Homo sapiens: one gene and its partner. The protein of the gene in region 1 purifies or fractionates together with the protein of each later gene. This does not show direct contact. Each region holds a gene or a part of one and is shown on either strand. Other genes may lie near its edges.

What was found. The genes of interacting proteins can lie anywhere in the genome.
Region 2: the proteins of FIBCD1 (region 1) and GDPD5 purify together in Homo sapiens (co-immunoprecipitation; one large-scale study listed by IntAct). This does not show direct contact.

Annotation. Positions count from the first base shown.
Region 1 is NC_000009.12:130,905,094-130,908,247, forward strand, and holds part of FIBCD1 (fibrinogen C domain-containing protein 1), read right to left. Parts: intron 321-3,154; coding exon 141-320; intron 1-140. UniProt on the Homo sapiens protein: Acetyl group-binding receptor which shows a high-affinity and calcium-dependent binding to acetylated structures such as chitin, some N-acetylated carbohydrates, and amino acids, but not to their non-acetylated counterparts.
Region 2 is NC_000011.10:75,519,442-75,522,941, reverse strand, and holds part of GDPD5 (glycerophosphodiester phosphodiesterase domain-containing protein 5), read left to right. Parts: intron 1-1,084; exon of another isoform or gene 1,085-3,500. UniProt on the Homo sapiens protein: Glycerophosphodiester phosphodiesterase that promotes neurite formation and drives spinal motor neuron differentiation.

The DNA.
Region 1 (3,154 bases):
TGTTATTTTTCAAAAACCTGATTACTTTCAAAGGGGGAAAAATACATTAGCCTTGATCATTTTGGAGGGCAGGACCTCCTCCGTCCTCCATCCTCCCAGGCCGCCCCCCTTCCCCATCCCTGCCACAGCTGGAGCCTCACCTGCAGTGCCGGAATAGTCAGCCACGGTGAGCGGGTACCCGTCTTCCTCAGGGTCCACGGAGAACAAGCCCACGCCGAAGCTCCCGTAGCGGGCATAGGCCGTGCCATTCTCAAAGTCCTCCAGGTCCACGTGCAGCTCGTAGGCAGCCTGTGTGGTCAGGGCGTGGATCCTCTTGAGCCCTGAAGTTGGGGGGAAAATGGTGGGAGAAGCTGAGGGGCGTAGGAAGCGACTCCCCAGGGAGAAATGATAAATGACAGCTGAGCTCATGCAGTTGGGGACAGAAAGGGACAACCACCAAGTGCGTGCAATCAGCCCTGGGCTACTTCCTTCTTCCTGCAGGCCTGTGTTGGGCAAGCCACTGAGGACCGACAGTTTTCATGTTTGGTTTTCTCTGTTCCCTTTAAGTGGAGCTGTGATGCTTTTCAAACGTTGGGGCTCTGAGCTGGTGGGAAGACTGCAGGAGGCGGGAGGAGGTGGGGGTGACAGCACCCTTACCCAGACTCCAGCCAGAGCCAGACAGACAGGATCTGTGTTCGCATTTTCCTATACCTGGCCTCTGGGCCTTTGCACATGCTGTTCCCTCTGCCAGGATGCTTGTCCCTACTCCTCCTCACTTGGTTACCTTCTATTCATTTCTGGAAGGCTGCCTGACCTCCTGTCGGCGTTGAGGACCTCCTCTGCCAACACATGTGCCCCTGTGGGTATTTATCTTTCAGGGTCCCGGCTGCCTATCTTGTCAGTTTCCCCACCAGTGCGGAATTCCCGTGACAGTGGCATGTCCGACCTAGCCACTGCTGACCCCAGTGCCTGGGGTGGGGCCTGGCACAATGGTGCTTACCCAGCGCTGGCTTAGTGGATGGGAGGGAGTTGGCGGCACCCTCACCCCTCTAGGCCGGCTCTGTGCCCCCATCCTACTCTCTCCCTCCTGCTGTCCCCGCCCCACCTCAACTCTGCCCTGCCCATCCCCGGGGTCTCATGCCAGGCCTCCCCTACCATACACATACGTGCTCAGACTCCCAAGATGCTTCACTGCTGGTGTGGTTACTCTTGATTAAGAGGGCATTTAATGAAATGTTTCACAAGTTAGTAGCAGCGAGTGGTATTCCATCCGCTTCTCCCTCCTGCCTGCCTCTCCCCGGCTCCGCACCTCCCGGGGTCAGTGTGTGCTGGCTGGAGGCTGTGCGGATCCTCCCCCATCCCGCCCGGACAAGAAGCCTTTGGTCCCAGTCACCAGGTCCAGGGACCAGGAGCAGCTACTGTGGGAGGAGTCACAGCAAAGCTGACCGCACGACCCACGTTCCTCCCCAAGGACCTGCCAGGGCATGGGCTTTGACAGCCTAGGGTCTCACCCAGGGTCCCCACCTCCCTGACTCTCCTGCTGCTGAGTCTCAGGGCAGCCGCTCTCCCTCTCTGGGCCCCAGCTCGGCTGGCGCAGGGCTGATGTGAGGGGCCAGGAGAGTGTCATACACAAAAGGGCAGGTGGGAGGTAATCATGACAACAGCCGCCACCTGGACGGCACTCGCAAGGGCCCAGCACCGTTCTCAGCCCTTCGTGCAGATGAGTGAATCCAGTGGAATTAGAGTGAGTCTAATTTAATTACAGAATCCCTGGGCGGCTCTTCTGGCAGGGCTGGCCCGCTGCACACATTATCCAGGTGCTGACTGCTGCTTCCCAAGGCCCCGGGGAAGGAGTGCCTATTACTACCTATTTTATAGGGGAGGAAAATGAGGCCCAGGGAGGTTAAGGAGCTGGCCCAGGTCACGCGGCTGCTGAGTGGCATTGCTGGGATTTGAACCCAGGCAGAAGGGCCCCAAATCCCTGCTGCTATTCAGACCTTACCCAGAACAAATCAGATGATGCAGGAATAGGGAGAGAGGGAGACCGGCCCCCCGGGGATGCTGGAAGATTCCTTTTCCCACCACTAATTGGCCATTGGCACCCAAAGGCCACCATTAGCCACTCCTCTGGGTTGAGTGACAATTCATGAGCGGTGTCCCGGGGGCTGCTAGGCAGGACGCCCGAGGGAGGGGTGGGTGGGGACCTGGGGCCTGGGTCCTCTCCGTCCTTCCTCCAGTCCACGCCACCTCCTCCCTCCCTCGCCTCCCTGCCCTTGCTCTTTGGCTTTCTCCAGCTCTCCCAGCTTTTCCCTGGCCTTCCAGGACCGCTCCCAGCCACGTTAGCTGTTCTTCCCAGATTCCCTGGGCCCCTGATCCAACTCCTTCACCAGCTCCCGGCTCAAATCGCCAAGAGCAAGAAACAGGGCTGATGGCTTGAAACAGACAGGAAACCACTAAGACCCTAAACTTCACATGTCCACCCCAGTGGACTTCCAGCTGGACTAAAGCTGTCAACCTAAAACAACACTAGAAAAACAGAAGAAAAGCCTGGGCGCGGTGGCTTACGCCTGTAATTCCAGCACTTTGGGAGGCCGAGACGGGCAGATCACGAGGTCAGGAGTTCGAGACCAGCCTAGCCAATATGGTGAAACCCCTGTCTGTACTGAAAATACAAAAATTAGCCGGGCGTGGTGGCGGGCGCCTGTAATCCCAGCTACTTGGGAGGCTGAGGCAGGAGAATCGCTTGAACCCGGGAGGTGGAGGTTGCAGTGAGCTGATATCATGCCACTGTACTCCAGCCTGAACTACAGAGTGAGACTCTGTCTCAAAAAAAAAAAAAAAAAGAAAGAAAAGAAAAACAGAAGAAAAAATAGAGGAGACTTAAAAAAAAAATAAAACTAGGAAGGGAAGGAAAGGAAAGCAGGGGCTAAAACCCAGAAAAGATACAAAGAAAAGGGTGGCAGAACTGAGTGCATAAACATCTTAAATTTCTAGGAAATAAATAATAACATGACCCCACAAAAGAAAAAGAAAAAGCTGAAAGACAAATGGCCAGAAGTTAATACCTATCATGTGTTGGACAAATGATCGGTAACCTTAATATATAGAGAGCTTCCATGACTCGATAGGAAAAGACAAAGCACTCATTGAGAGGGGATGGGGAGGGTGGTGCGGC
Region 2 (3,500 bases), on another chromosome or scaffold:
GAATCAGTCTGCTTGGGGACACCGGCAAGGGGCTCTGGATTCTTACCCCCTCCCTTGGCTTCCTGCTGGCAGGGCTGTGGTGCCTGGAGCTGGTGTCCATTCCCTCGGGCCCATTGTCTGACCTCCCTAGGCACCAAGGTGCAGTGAATAATTAATACTCCCCTCAGCTGGGGGCAGGCTCAGGGAAATAGCTCTATGTTCAGTGAGCTTCTGAACCCTACCAGAGGAGGTGGGGGCTCCTGTCTGTGCTGTTAGCAGTCTTGGATATGGGGGGGCAGGCAGGATAGGACAGGGAGAAAGTGTCATCTGGCCCCCAACAGGAGAGAGCTGGGGTTGATGATGTCCTGTCTCTTCTGTTGGGGGCCAGATGGTCCCACAGGCAACACTGGGAACCAAGCTAGCTGAGCTAGGATCAAGTGGGCCTCTGATTCCAGAGAGGTGGTGACGGGGAGGAGTAAGGGGGAGGGTACAGGGCAGAAAGGGGTGGAGGGGAGGCCCTTGAGGACTGGAGTAACCAGGAAGGCTTTGTCAGGGAGGTGGCTGTCTGGGCAGGAGCTAGAGGAAACTTGCTGCAAAGACGGGGGGTCCTGACATCCCTCCAAGAAGGAATCCTGGCTGTGCCACCGCCTCACTGAGAGCATGGGAAAGACACATGATCCCATCAGGCCTCCATTTCCCCCTTTGTGAAATGACGGTTGTGATGTCCACTTCTCAAGGCTGTTAAGGATCATCTTGAGGTCCCATGTGTGAAACACACGGCACTTTAGGCACTCAACAAGGGGGTGCCTCATCATGAGTGTGAGCTAGTGGGCTAGTGGCGGGGCAGGTGGGATAGCGTGGTAAGCCGAGAGGTAGGGAGAACTTGGGGCGAGGAGGATGGCTTGGTGGGGTTAGTGAGGGGTGAATGCCCATATAGGAGAGGGCCTTGAATGTTAGACAGAACTCACATTTCAGAAAGCTTAATGGAGCCCCCATTTAGAAGCCTCTGTGGCTCCTTACGGCCTGTAAGATGAAGACCAGGCCCTAGTTATGGCATTCAGGTCCTTGGTCACCTTAGCCTCTGCCCGGCCTTCTGGCTCATTGCTCTGCACTGTCTCCTAAACACACCACATGTGGCCCCATCACAGCCCCTTTGTTTGTGGTTCCTCCCATCAGAACCGCCATCCCTGCCTCTGCTCCACTTACCTCCCCACCTGTCAAGACCTGACTGAGGTCATAAATTCCCTCAGAAACATTCCTGGATTACCCAACCCTCTGGTCATGCCCCCTCTGAATCTTTAACATTCAGCAGTAATAGTAAAAAATAATACCTACTATCCATAACATTTTGCAGTTTGTAAAATGTATCCACACAATACTACAGTGATGATATCAACAACAGCTGATATCTTGAGTACTTACTATGAGCCAGACAATGTGCTAAATGTTTTATAGACACTCTTGTTCACACAAACTCCCTGAGGTAGCTACTGTTATCCCCTAGAAACTGGGGCTCAGAGAGGTACCTGATCTTGCCCGAGGTCACACAGCTCAAAGGTAGGGAGCAGGGAGCCAAGCTGCATCTGTTTGAATTGTAAATCTGTGCTTAGAAGATGTCCTGTCTCCTCACCTCCACCCAAGTACCTTGAAAGCATACTTTGTGTGTAAAAAGCCTGGACAAGGTTTTTTCTCAAGGCTAAGGAAGGGCAGTGTTGGACTGAGCATGGGGCCCAGGAAGGACCTGGGCCCTAGGCCGTGCACAGGCTGGCTGGTTGTCTGTGTGACCTGGGGTGAGTCGGCCCCTCTCTGGGGTCCCGTGTGTCCATGTCTATGGGGAGCAGGGTGGGTTCTGAGCTCCCCTGTAGCTCCAGCTTTCTACATCGTCTTTCGTGACCCTGGAGGGAGGAGGAGGAGACCACAGCACCAGGGCCAGAGGATGTGGTATGACGGGCAGCTGTGATTTTTGGCCTGGCCACTGTCTGGGCCAGCAGGCTGTGTGGGTAGCTGCCTCGCCCAAAGGAGGGTGGTGGCCTGAGCTGCAGGCAGCATGGTCATTAGCTGGCAGAGGAGACCCTGTGATTGGGAACTGGCTGGGCCAGGCCAGGCCAAGTTGGCGGGACTGGAGGCAGGCTGGCCGGGCCACAGCGGGGTCACTGGCAGGGCAGCCAGCTTCTCCTCCCTTTGCCCCCTTTGGGGTGGTGGCAAACACACACTGGGCACCAGAGCTTTGTAGGCCAAGGCTTACCCTTTCTCCTGCTGTGACCATGGGAAAGAGCAGTAAGGAGTTCAACCAGGTCCAAAGATGCTGCCTGCTATAAGCTTCCAGTACTCCTCCCATGCAGGTGGGATCCAAGCCTCCTCTGCTGCTGATTCATGGCCCTCTGCACACTGACTGTGGTCTGTGGATTGGGGTTCTGCTTGGTCTGCTTCCCTTGCTGGCTTGTCAAAACTAGATTCTATGTGCCCCCACCGAATCCTCCCCTCCCTCTGAGTGCCTAGCAGTGTGCCTGGCACAGAGCCACACCCTCCGGGCCAGGGGAGGCAGTGCAAGCTGCCCCATGGACAACTTGCTCAACTTTTGCACCTCTGTTTTTTCCCTGTACATTGGGGCTGATAATAACTGTTATTAAATGAGATGAAGGAAGTGGGGTGCCTGTCCAGGCCTGGCACACAGGTGGGTACTCCATCAGCATGAGTCTTCTTGCCCATCCCCTCGATGGCTTCGTGAACGAGCAACTCAGTAAGAAGCTGATGGAAGAGTCCAGTGAGTGATGGCTGGAGGGAGGGCGTGCCAGATGGCAGGGAGGCCTTCCCTTAGGGGGACTTAGCTGGGGTTTGCAGATTCACAGTTCCCACCACCTTCCCTGTGAACAGTGGTGTGTAAGCAGGTGCTGTTGGCCTGGAAGGGTCCCGAGCTAGGTTCAGGGGAGGGAGCAGGACTGGGATATCTGGGGACTTGGGTTTTCTTCTCAGGCCTACGCAGAAGAAATGACCCAGGTGGGAGAAGCCGTCTGGCGTCCAGCTAGCAGATGCTGGGCAGAGAGTGTGAGTTCTTCCTTAAAGGGAAGCAGCATTTATTTGGTGCTGCTCACACACACATCCAACCGAAATGTAACATGGTTGGAGATTCTGGTCTGTGGGGGAAACAGCATTAGACAAGGAAACACACAGATGCAAAACTTCCAAATTGTGAGAAGCAGGCTCCTGAGGCAGGGGCCGGTCCCATCAGTATCTGTGGCTGGTGGCACAGGGTAGGGCTAAATGACTTGGGCAAGTGATTTAACCTCTTTGGGCTTTAGTTTCCCCATATGTAAAATGGGGATAATTACAGCATCTTCATCATAGAGTTGTGAGGGTGAAATGAATTATACGTGTAAAGCACTCAAAAAAATGCCCAGCACATAATGAGCACTCAGTGCAGGTTAGCTGTTATGATCTGTATCTCCAGCACCTCACAGAGGATCTTAGAGAAAACAGGTGCTCAGGAAAGGCGTTTGGAATGAATCCCAGGCAAAGGGCAG